Regions from separate parts of the Homo sapiens genome. Here all the other regions are linked to region 3. The links come from fine-mapping of genetic effects on gene expression. A gene starts in region 3. Each other region holds a variant in brackets. All regions are shown on one strand. Distances are from middle to middle. Region 1 holds the start of MIR4270 (microRNA 4270). Region 2 overlaps COLQ (collagen like tail subunit of asymmetric acetylcholinesterase). Region 3 holds the start of COLQ (collagen like tail subunit of asymmetric acetylcholinesterase).

Region 1 (4,184 bases), 23 kb before region 3:
TTCCCCCTTGACCCACTTTCTTCCCAGCAGGGGAAGGCCATCTATTTCTGCCCTCCCCTGACTCCCTGAAGCTATTTGTTTTTAGGAGCCTAGTTTATTTACAGCTCATTCCTGTTCAGAATATTTCCATCAGGTGGACGTGTTTGGGAGCAGCTTCCCCCTCCCTCCTCCCTCCCAGTCAACTAAGCCAGGACTTCACATGTCTATTTTGGTGTCATCCGAGTGGCCTGTGGGTCTTTCTCATGGACTGTCTCTATAGAATTGTGTCTGAGCTCAGGCTCCAGTCTGGAAAAGCCCCGGAAGGCTCTGTTGTATTGAAAGCAATCCTGTGCGTATCTCCGTGGAGCCTGCAGAAACCTGGGAGCAGCACGTGGCTCAGCACCAGGCAGCTGCCTTGGAAATGCCAACCATCACGGAACTTCAGGACCGCATGTCCCAACTTAAAGACATCAAGCTCATGTTGTATGTGGCCAGTGCATTGCCAAATTATGGGTAATTGTTTAATGCAGGCTTTGGCAAGTGTTTGAAGCTTTTGTTGTCGATGATGCTGGTTTTGCCCTTTGGACTCAATACCCATTCTTGAAAAGGAGACTTTCTCTTGTTTCATTTCAAGAAACTGAGGCACATCTTTGGAAAGCGATTTTCTCCAATTTACTCTTGGAAAGACATGGATTTGATTAAAGAGTGTTAAGTCTAGGTGCAAGTGGCCATGTGAGCCAGTACAACTCACTTACTCAATCTGAAACTTAGTTTCCTCATCTGTACCACAAAGAGTTTTGCCCAAATCATCTCCAAAGTCCTTTTGCCTTTTTTTTTTTTTTTTTTTTTTTTTGAGACGAAGTCTCACTCTATTGCCCAGGCTGGAGTGCAGTGGTGGGTTCTCAGCCCACTGCAACCTCCGCCTCCAGGGTTCAAGCCACTCTCATGCCTCAGTCTCCTGAGCAGCTGGGATTACAGGCGAGTGCCACCATGCCTGGCTAATTTTTGTATTTTTACTAGAGATGGGGTTTTGTCATGTTGGCCAGGCTGGTCTTGAACTCCTGACCTCAGGTGATCCGCCCACCTCAGCCTCTCAAAGTGTTGGGATTACAGGCATGAGCCACTGCACCTGGCCTCCTTTAGTCCCTTTTTAAAATAAGTATGACACCAGAACCACCACTGTATCCATCTTCATCTACCCTCTTGCAAGGCCAGCCCCACAATAGGTTACTGGAAATAGCCATTTCCATTTCTGCCTTCTGTTTTTCCATCAAGTAGCCTTCCCTCCCACCCCCTCAATCCAACAAATGTGTCATTAGAAACTGTCAAAGGAAAGAAGTGACATAAGCATCCTGCCTCAGCAGGTTGAGAGAATTACAAGTGCAGCCATTTAACTGTTCTGCACCTGCCTGTCCAGTTGGTGGACTAGTCAGCTTTTTACTTCCTCCTCCTCTTTTGGGGCCTTTCCCTGCCTGTGGGAACTTGCATGAGAGAGACAGACCCCAAAGAAGAGAGAAAGCCAAGGGCACACGCTGTATGGCAGCTCAGAGTGCTTTGACTTTATTGTAGTGAGTTGGGTCTCAGCTACAGTAAAGTTCTTACATTAACTGAATGCAATTTGCCCAAAATTCCCCCCAATTCACATGTTCCAGAGAAGGCTGCACCCTACAATTTTCCTTCAATCCCCACAACAAACCTTGAAAGACAAATTCTGATCCTAAAAGTTGCACGTAATTTGAACTTCTCTGAAAGAACATGGTAGAGTTTGCCTTCTGCTGTATGTCCCTGAGCAGGCAAGGATACAACCTACAAAGAACAATTTGTGGTTTGGTGGCTGTGCCTCTGAGCCAAATTACCCAAGGCAGTCCACTCAAGAGTGATGGAGACTGTCTCAGCCACCCAACGCCAGCGGGGGCCCAGACTACAGAACACGATTTTACTTCAAAGCCAAGGTACCAGCTGCCAGCCAAGGTACCAGCTGCCAGCACAAGGTACTTGTGTCAGTCAAGGTCACAAGAGGGACACAGACAAGTGCACACACCCGTTAGCATGTATGCCAGGTCCCCACCAACTCTACTGTGAAACCCCTTTGCATTGCAACTTCAACACTGGCTGAGCAGTTTAAAATTTAAAGGCTTTCACAATGAGAAACAGCCCTGTGAAAGAAAAACTTAAAAAGAAAAAAAATTTAAAGGCTGCTAAAACCTCCTAGTACAGTCTGCTTTCCAAGAGTCTTTTTTCCAAAACAATGCATGTGCAT[C/CCACACA]CACACACACACACACACGTGCACACACGCACACACAACTCACCCAAGCAGCCTGCCGAGTAACAGAGCAGTCCTGAAATGATGAGCAGATGAGCGAGGCTGAATGATGAGCCCGTCATTGTGAGGCAGGGCCCAAAGCGGACTGGCCAGGGAACACTAGCCGGAGACAGGCTGAGATTCGTCACGCCTCTGAGTGCTCCCAGTGCCTGGCCTGTTTGGCATTAGGGGTGGGAGTTGGCCAATCCCTGCTTTGATGTTGCTTCTGCTCCAGATGCCAGGGGTCTGGAGCCAGTCCTGAGCTCCTGGGAGTAGCAATGGGTAGGCAGCCCTGCTCCAGCTGCCCATGAACACTGCTGTAGGGGAGGCTTGGAGGACAAGAGTGCCTTCAGCCCAGGGGAGGATATGAGGTTGGGAGCCCAGGGATACTTATCCCCCTGCAAGCCAAGAGGAAATTGAGAGCAATCAAACAGGCTGCTTTTCATTTGGCTCAAAAACCGACTTGACTCAAAATACCACAGCAGTATTGACTGCTCTGGTAAGCCTCAAAGTCAACCCCCCACCGAGACCGTCCAAGGGGAGCCTGCCCTCCTCTGCTTCAGGGAAGACCTTCATGGCCAGGGGTCTCAGCTCTAATCCTGTCTGGGCCAAAGTGTTGCTGACAAAGCTAAACGTAACTAAAACAACAACAACGAAACCACAAACAAACAAAATATATAGATTTCCAAAGGGCATGTAGGCAAGTCTTTTTGGATGAAGCGGCATATACCAGTTACATGCTTAAATCTATCTGGTACTTTATAGGCACACCCAGTGCACAAGCATGGACACACACAATATTTTAGATTATAAAAGACAAGATTATTATTATACTACTTAGCAATAAGCACTGTTGTTTTGATCAGCTTAGTAAAGACCATAAGCTATAGCAGGAGTCAGCAAACTTTTGCTATAAAGGTCAACATAGTAAATATTTAGGCTTTGTGGGTCACATGGTCTCCGTTACAACCTCACTTTGCCATTGTACAGGACAGCAGCCATAGACAATACATGAAGGAATGAGATTGGTCATGTTTTGTAAAAGTTTACACAAATATAGGAGGCAGGCTGGATTCGGCCCACAGGCTGTAGTTTGCCAAGCCCTGCACTATAACCTTCAAAAGAAAGGACACTTATGTTCATTCATTCATTTACTGTTTTATTCATTCAGAAACACAGTAAGTACCAAATTGTGCAAGACATAATGACTAGACACAGTTCCCGCCCTTGGAATGTGTCGTTCAGTGTCACGGGAAGAGTACTGGCCCTGGAGTCATCCAAGTTGGGCTTAAGTCCTGGTTTTGCCACTTAGTAGCTGTGTGACCTTGAGGAAGTTATTCATTCTTTCGGAGTCTAAGCTTTCTTACTTATAAAGTGGGCGTGCAAAGCCGACTTTGATAGTTTGCTGTGAGGATTAGAGCTACAGCTTTTGGAATTCCTGGCACCGAATAAGGGCTCTCTTATTGACATATTCTTGGATAACTGTTGTATAAGGTAAAAAAAGAAGAGTGGCTAACATAGGGCAGGGATGCCTGAAGGGATTTATAGAAGGAAGAAATGGGTAACGGTTGAGGGGTAGAGGGTCCAAGTGAGATATCAAGGAAGGATTCCTGGAAGAGGTGGGATTTGAGCTGATACTTGAAAGCAGAGACTTGCTATATCAAGATGGGAGGAGTGGGAGGTGAGGCTTAGGCTGTGTTCCTTCTCTGGGGAATTCCCCTTTGTCCTTCTCAGAAACTGGGTCTAAGACCTCAGAGAAAGTAGCAATAAGGCCAGGGAGTCCTCAGTCCTGAGTCCTAGAGAGTTGCAGAAGTATCTGCATCACATTTTCCTGACTTTCTCTATTCTGAGTCATATTCTTGCAGCTCTTCATTTTTCAAATTTCATTTCGCAAACCTTCAGAGATGGA
Region 2 (4,209 bases), 62 kb before region 3:
AATGTTATTTATAGAGTGTGGAAACATGGCAGGATTTCAACTAAGATAACAAAGTATAACTTTTTTTGAGACGGAGTCTCGCTCTGTTGCCCAGGCTGGAGTGCAGTGGTGCTATCTCAGCTCACTGCAATCTCCGCCTCCTGGGTTCAAGCGATTCTCCCACCTCAGCCTCCCAAGTAGCTGAGACAACAGGCGTGCACCACCGCGCCCGGCTAATTTTTTAAATATATTTTTTAGTAGAGATGGGGTTTCACTGTATCGGCCAGGCTGATCTCGAACTCCTGACCTTATAATCCACCCACCTTGGCCTCCCAAAGTGCTGGGATTACAGGCATAAGCCACCATGCCCGGCCAAAAGTACATTTTTATACAATATAATCTCAACCATATAAAAGTTAGATTTTAATAAGACAAAGAAAATACCCCAAAATGGACTCACAATCAAATGGACAATTTGGTTTTCCTCTTGATTTTCTCATATTTTCCAATTTCCTATAATGAGGGTGTACTCAGAGTCGTGAAAAAAAGTTAGTTTTACTGAAAGGATTTTACAAAGCCCCATAAGGATCAGGTGAGAGGTCCTCACGGATAACCACCCCAGACTTCTCCCAGAAAGCCTTACCACAGGAACTCGCGGGGAACTGGGCCCATACACAGATTCCCCGTAGGAAGGGTTATTCACATTCATAGTGGGTCCACAAAGACATCTTCCTGGAGGCCCGGGAAATCCTCTTTCCCCTTTGGGTCCCATTATAAGTTGTCCTAGGAAGCAACAGACTGCTGTGTTACTAGAGCCAAGGAAGAGAAGACCAAACAACCAGGGAGATGTGAGCGACCTTTGCAACAGAAAAAAGGTTAAAGTCCACAGCATTTCAGGGTATGCCTGAGGGAGAGGTTCAAAGAGATGCTTTTGATCCAAGACATGGAGGAGCTAAGGTAAGAAAAATAGCTGGTAGGCGATAGTTTCCCCCTCCTTCCTGCCTTGAAGACAGGCAAGATGTCTGGTGTTGCAGCAGCCGTGTTGCAACCAGGAAGTCACAAGCATGAGAAGATAAGCCAACATGCAGGAAAGACGAAAGGCTCATGGGGCCTGGGGCCCTGACAGTGACAGTCAGAGGCTGAATCAAAGCCAGCTACTGCCTGCCTCTGGATTTCTTTATTGGAGAAAAACAATGTCTTATTTGTTTAGACCATTATTAACAGAGGGCTTCTTGCCGACAAACACATTATTGACTGTTAACTTTTATTGTTTTAAAAAACTTTTGTTTTTCTTATATATAGAATTTTTTTTTTTTTTTGAGATGGAGTCTTGCTCTGTTGCCCAGGCTGGAGTGCAGTGGCACGATCTTGGCTCACTACAACCTTTGCCTCCCAGGTTCAAGTGAGTCTCCTGCCTCAGCCTCCTGTGTAGCTGGGATTACGGGTGTGTGCCACCACACCAGGCTAATTTTTGTATTTTTAGTAGAGACGGGGTTTTGCCATGTTGGCCAGGCTGGTCTCGATCTCCTGACCTCAAGTAATCCGCCCACCTCAGCCTCCCAAAGTGCTGGGATTACAGGCGTGAGCCACCATACCCAGCCAATGTAGGATCTTTACAGAGGAATTTCTGGATGTGGGTTTCTTTCATTTCTTCTGGAAGAAAATAGAACATTAGTATATGCTCTGCCCATTTACCCTCCCCTGGTGCTGAAGAAGTGAGGACATGTCTTGAAAAGATATGATCAGAAAGTGTACTCCCTAGCAATGTGGAAGAACTGTGAGGGTAGTACCTTGGTTTTTAAAGGCTCTGATACCCAGGATACACCTCAGACCAATTCCATCAAGACTTCTGAAAACTGAACTGAACCTAGGCAGCATCCACA[C/T]TTTTATTTATTTATTAAAAAAAATTTTTTTACCACTTTAGCATAAGGCATCCTTTTTTTTTTTTTTTTTGGAGACGGAGCCTCACTCTGTCGCCCAGGGTGAAGTGCAGTGGTGTAATCTCAGCTCACTGCAACCTCCGCCTCTCAGGTTCAAGTGATTCTCCTGCCTCAACCTCCTGAGTAGCTGGGACTACAGGCACGTGCCATCAGGTTTGGCTAATTTTTGTGTTTTTAGTAGAGACAGGGTTTCACTCTGTTGGCCAGGCTGGTCTCGAACTCCTGACCTCAAGTGATCCATCTCCCTTGGCCTCCCAAAGTGCTGGGATTACAGGTGTGAGCTGCCGCGCCTGGTCAGGCACCCATATTTTATTATTATTATTATTATTATACTTTAAGTTTTAGGGTACATGTGCACAATGTGCAGGTTAGTTACATATGTATACATGTGCTAGGCATCCATATTTTTAAAAGCTCTCAAGATGATTCCAATTTGCCCCAAGGTTGAGAACTGGGCCATTCCCCTGCCAGATCATCCTCCCTTCATCCTCCATCCCTCCCCAGCTGCCTCTCAACTCCCTTCTGATCTGGGTTCAAACATCACTTCTTGAAGGAAGACTTTTTGAATCCTCAGACTCTGTCATGTATACCTGGGATACAATTTCATGGTTTCCTATGCCTTTCTTCACAGCACTTCTCTTTGTGATTCTATATATTGTGAGATTATTCCATCAAGGTTGATCTCCAGTAGAATGTCGCTCCACAAGGACAGGGCTAGTGCCTGTTTTCATCCACCAGGGCTTACACAAAGTAGGGGCATGGAAAGTGTTTGATGATCGAATGAATGAATGCCGACTAATTGGAGAGAAAAAGTCTTCAGAAGAGGGTAAAAGTCACATTCTGGCTGGCAGAAAAGCACCAGAACAAAAGCCATCTAACAGGAAGTGAGGAAAGAGAAAAAAAGATGGGGACTGAGAAGAGAAATAGGTAAGGATCCCTTCTTCTGGGAAAATAGCGAGGGGTGGGTTTGGAGGCCAGCCAGTCATTGGTGTCAGGCAGTATGACATCTGGGGCAGCCAGGGGCTGGGAACACAGTTCACAGATCCAGAAGGGCAGGAAATAAAATGACCCCAGGGGAGAGATCTGGCCAGGACCCCAGGGAAAACACTGCAGTCGGAGGAGACTGAACTTTCCTGAGCGAGTTGACAGGTATTCGTACAATCAGAATGCTGACAGCATGAGGGGAAGGGCACTGTGCCAATATCTTATCCTAAGTTATGGTTGTTTGTTCTAACAAGAAATACAAATATAATTCTGTAGGAAGAGCTCCAGTCTGTGTTCTGATATTTTCAGAAGAGCCCAGAGAGACAGGGAATCCACCAGGCTAGGAATATTCTGGGTAATTAAGCACTTGGGGAAATTGAAGTGGAAAAGCTCTGTGACCAAGAATATGAGGGTGGCATTGGAACAGCCTTCCAGAAGGCTCTGTGACCCCAACAACTCCTCCAGAACCATGGCCTGAGAGACAGTCAGGAGTTTGTCCCATTAGCTGCTGATGAATGGTGAGGCTGAGATTTGAATTCATGTTTTACTTAACACTATGCTGTTCAAAAGACAAATGTCCAAGAATACTGATGCTCTCAGGAAGCTGGCAATTCCCAGGTACCACGTTGATTCACTTATACTCTGTCTGGGTACAGGAAGGACTCAGCCAAATTTGTAATTTGATTATTGCAAATTACATCCTAAAGGCATTTTGCCTTTATTCCCCCCCCGACCTCTTAGCCCCTCTTACCCTCTAACTCAGATAAGTACAAAGCTCTCACCCTTTCCACCTCCCCCAGCACCATCTGGTCCCACAGAGCTGGGCACCAGAAACCGAGGTCACCTCCCAACAGGATGTGGCAGGGAGCCTGCTGCCACCACTGCAGTTTCCCTGCAGCTTCCTCCCAGTTGCTGCAGGGCATCTGTTACCCCTGCCTGTTTTCTGCCAGGCTATACTAAAGGACTCAGCAACCTGAACTTCCCCACCCTGACCTCTGGGAGATCATGTCTCAGCTGGGTTTCATCGCCACCCCCTGCAGCCAGAGGACCTGGCTCTCCATCTTTTCCCAGGCAGGCTCCCGCTTCCATTGGCTGCCTCAGTGGGAAAGGATCAGGAAAGGGGAATCTAGGAGAGGGCAGAGGAACCAGCACAACAACCTCTAGGGCCGCCTGGCTGACACTCACCCATTCTGGACCAGGGTGGCCCCCAGTCACTGCTGTGACCTTGCAGGCATCACTTCTCTTTGAGGTTCAAGATTCTTTTCTCTAAGGGGAGGGTAGGACTAGACCAGGGGAGTTTTAACCT
Region 3 (4,209 bases):
GAAGATGGTGTACTTCTCCTTCACTTTCTCCCTGCTTTAGGGCCTTCCATGACCAATGCTCTTGCTTAATGGCCCCTTCTCTAAGGCTCCAAATCTGCCTGGGATCCATTTTCCTATTTGCCCCTCTTGCCTTTTCAAGCACAGGGTGGTAAAGGCATATTGCAGTTGCTAATCTCTAGGTGCCTCAGCATTCCTTGTTGGTTCCCTTAACCCCGCCCACACCTCTCAAAGTGATCCCTTCATTCAGATCTTTTCATCTGAACCACCTGAGTTGCTTCTTTATCCTGCTGTTGCCCTGATTGGTACAGTCTGCAAAAAGCTTACCTAAGAGATATCTATGTTGTGCCAGGGTGCTCTCCAAGGCAAAGAGTTCAAAAGAAAACCAGAGGTTCTTTTCTCTCTAGTTTTCTGAACTCCTTAACCACTTTGGTGCTATTTAAATTAAGTAATACAAAATGATGGTAAACCCCAGTTTGCAGATGAGAAGCTTTTATTCATTCATTCATCAAATATTTATTGATTACTATGTGCCAGGCACTGTTCTGACCCTGGGAAAACAGTAAAGTACAAGAGAGACACATGCCCTGGCCACATGGTGCTTATAGTGTAAGGCCACTGTCTCTCAGAAGTCAGGGAGCTCATCAGAGGCAGGGCTAGAACCAGAAAACTGAGTTTCCTTAAGTCCTAACCTTCAGCAGATTCTCAAAGGAATCCATGACCCAAACATGATTAAGAACCACCAAATTAGGCCAAATTAACTCTCAAGCTTCTCCCTTGAACTGGGGAATGAATAATGACTACTCACTCCTAGAAGAAGCTTGATGCTCTTAACTTGAATTTGCAGGGGCATGTGGGCACACACCCACGGTGACACCACCACTCACCTTTCCTGCCCACCCTCCTGAATTCTCCACAAATCTGCCCCCACCTCCTTCTGTTTCTCACACTTTTATAATTAGCCTCACACCAGTCTCTGAGTCACTCCCTCATGGCCCACAAACGTTGGCTACACAACTTGCTGATGAGCTGTTTTTATCAATGGACAGCAGTTGGGAGCTGGATTCAGAGATGTGCCCTCTCTGAGAGCCTGGCATTTCTGGCCCTCCCTGTGTTTCCAGCAAAGGCAGCGATAGTGAAATTTCTGTCTCAGTTGAAGTATTTATGAGACTCATGTTGGAGGCATAACTAAAACTTTGCTGGGGAGAGTCAGGGGTCACTGAGGTGAATTGAGGGGGGCTGTGAGGGTCTGCCTGCCTCCTTCAAGCCCTCCGGAAACATTTGAGTTTCCTCAGAAAGGTTTAAATAGGCCATACTAGTAACCGAATACTTCCCCTGCTCTGGGTCAGACAAGACAAGGGCAACAGGCTGCTGACCTCAGAAAAGGTTGCAGGCTGGCAGACACAGCCCCTTCCCCAAATCTCCCAGCCTCATACCCGGCAGACACACTCAGCTCCAGACCTGGCTGTCACTGTGGAACCCCCTCCACTTCTCCCTGGAAAGCTCACTTCTCTCAGGACCTCCAGCTGCCTTGTCTGAGGCTGAAGGGAAGTCGCACCCAGGAAGACAGGTCTGGAGAAAGGGAAAACCTAGTCCTGAGGCTGCAACTGCCCCGCCGCTGTTCACCCCCCACCCCACCGGCCCCTGCCACCTGCATTTTCCCTTCGAGGGACTATTGTGGCCATGGATGCTATCTGGGTCTGGAAAGAGGTTTGTTTACTCCACAACAGCCCCTGTGAGGCAAGCCCCCTTCGAAGAGGTCAGAGATGTATTTATAGAAACATCTGAGACTCACTTCTCTATTACTTGCACACCTCTGTCTCTTTTAAGCTCTCCCAAATTCCTGACCAAGATGAAATCATGCAGCAAATGGGGAGAATAGGGGAGGCAGAAACCATTTTTCAAAGTGTCTCTGCTTTGAGCAGCCAGGTAGGAGCCGGTTGGAACAAGGACAGAAGGGGCTTCCGAGACAAGCTCGGGTGACAGGAAGCTGCTGGGGTGGCCGTCTTCCTTCCAACCTCCCTCCACCAACAGTTGAATGGCAAAAACATCAGGACACATTGCAAAACAATCTTCCTTCCTCCCCCTGTCCCCTGACAGATGGAAGAGAGGAAAGTTGTGGCCATCATTTACCTGCTGAGATTGGAAGAACGCTGTTGATGAAAGTCGGCTGAGACACGATAGAGAGGAAGAAAAGCTGAAGATAAATTCCCAAAGTCATTGGATTCAGGACAACCATGCTGGCCAGGGTCTGGCGAGGGTCAAGTTAGAAAGGAGGCTGCTGCGGAGCCTTGCTTATCTCTGCTTTTCTCTTCCTCACTGCTGTTTGCGTGCGCGTGTGTTTGTGTGTGTGTGTGTGCGTGTGTGTGTGTGTCTGTGTGTGTGTGTGTCTTTCCCTCTTTCTCTTTCCCTCTCCCTCCTCCTCACCCCCTCCCTCTCTCTCCCTCCCCCACCTCTCCTGTCTCCCATGCCTTTACCAAGAAAGAATGCCAACCATTTCCCATTAAACTGTCTCCATGCTACAGAGAGTTATATTTATCTCAAGCTCCATATCAAATGCCCACATTAAAATTAAGATGTCAAAATTTTCTTTTTTGGAGACTGAGGTAAGTGGCTAGTGAAGAGGTGATGAGAAGGCAGCCAAGTCTCAGATGTTCACTGGAGGCAGTCCTCAAGGGCAGAGAGATTCCTAATTGGTTATGTGCCACCATCTACCTCCTTGGAACTGGGCAGAAACAACTCTCCTGATTCAAACTGAATTTCATGGAGAAAAACCCCTCCACTGTCAGCCTGTGACATTTTTACCCATTGTGTAACAAATGTAAAGTTAACTTTTAATTTTTTTCTTTAATCATCCAATAAAAAGGAGGAAGGAAGTAGTTTATATTTCCAAACAGCTTTCTCTGTGAAAAAGTGTTTCTCTCTCCAAAAGCTGCAACCTTTTGATTCAATGCAAGGCAAAATAAATGAAAACAGTAAAAGTATAGAAAAGTGAATGATTTTTATCAAACTATATTCAGAAAAATAACATCACTAACTTAATCTTTGGCTAGACAAAATTATTCAAATAAAAATTATCACATTCTTAATACCTTTTATGAGTTTATAAAAGCCTGTTATAGAGATGATTAGATGACTAAAACAAAATAATAATTCACAGAGTTGTTCATTTTGCTTTAATTTACATATTACATGCCTCATAGGAGTTAACTCAGAAACAGTCTGCTAGTTACTGGATGCTGGGGTGGGCATCCTGCCCCTGTGCTCATTATGGGGAAGGTGGAGTTGGGTCAGGGCGTGGTATAAAGTGATATTTTACAGCTGTAGCACCACACTTGGGCTTGACTCTCAGCTCTGAGTGGCAGTGGACAAGCTCACCTCTCTAAGCCTCAGTTTTCTCATCCATACAATGGAGACAATGTTCCCTTTAAAGGTTTGTTGGAAAGTTAAGTGAGGTAATGGGGATGAATCCTACACGGATTAGAACTTGCACATAGGAACAGCACAAAGGAGACCCAAGGGAGCCATGGTAGCCTGGGTGCAAAGATGGCCTCCAAAAGTCCTCCCAACCCAGTGTGTGCATGACACTCTTCCCAGCAAAAAGCAGGGCTAGTTCCCCTCCCTTAAATCTGAGGTGGCTCTGTGACTTACTTTGACCAATAGAATGTGGCTAAAGGGACACTGTGCCATCTCCTGGCCTAGGCCTTAAAAGGCCTGGCAGCTCCTGCTTTTGCCTTTTCTTGAAAATCAGCTGCCACTTTAAAAAGTCTGGACTATTGAAGAGGCCACATGGAGGGGGAAGCAGCCAGCCTCCAGCTGTTCTGACTATCCCAGATGCAGCATCAACAGGCGAGTGAGGCCATTTTGGAACATCTAGCCCTGTCCTGGTCTCAGATGATGCCAGCCACAGGAGTGACCCCAAGTGAGACCCTCGAAAGAACTGCCCAGCCCAGATTACGAAGTCATGAGCAAATAAAACGGCTATTGTTTCAAACCAGTAAGTTTTAGGATGACTTGCTCATCAGCAATAGCTAACTGATACAGAGTTGATAAGGAAAGCTTTTGAAAGCATGAAAAATATACCTGAACTACATTCAAAATTTATAGGACAGATTAAAGAGAGGGTACCCCCATTTAGCTGCTCCCAAAATTTTTACAAGAAGGAGCTGTGATTGCTGGCCAAACTCAATCAGGACATTCTCAGGCTCACTC

The links. PIP is the estimated chance that this variant, and not a neighbour inherited with it, causes the effect.
Region 1: its variant is the best candidate, but not a certain one, in a credible set for the expression of COLQ in naive CD4 T cells (Schmiedel 2018, PIP 0.62).
Region 2: its variant is the best candidate, but not a certain one, in a credible set for the expression of COLQ in thyroid (GTEx, PIP 0.80).

What each region holds. Positions count from the first base shown.
Region 1 is chr3:15,496,230-15,500,413 of GRCh38, forward strand. All of the region lies in intron 1 of COLQ (collagen like tail subunit of asymmetric acetylcholinesterase), which reads right to left. MIR4270 (microRNA 4270) reads right to left here and starts at 79; the gene lies at 10-79. The variant C/CCACACA (reference allele first, on the strand shown) is at 2,240.
Region 2 is chr3:15,457,564-15,461,772 of GRCh38, forward strand. COLQ (collagen like tail subunit of asymmetric acetylcholinesterase) reads right to left here. Exons shown (of 17, transcript NM_005677.4): 13 at 623-762. Among named protein-coding and RNA genes, the nearest start is that of EAF1, 32 kb to the left of the region's middle. The variant C/T (reference allele first, on the strand shown) is at 1,863.
Region 3 is chr3:15,519,390-15,523,598 of GRCh38, forward strand. It overlaps COLQ (collagen like tail subunit of asymmetric acetylcholinesterase), which reads right to left and starts at 2,317. Exons shown (of 17, transcript NM_005677.4): 1 at 2,131-2,317. The coding sequence starts at 2,236.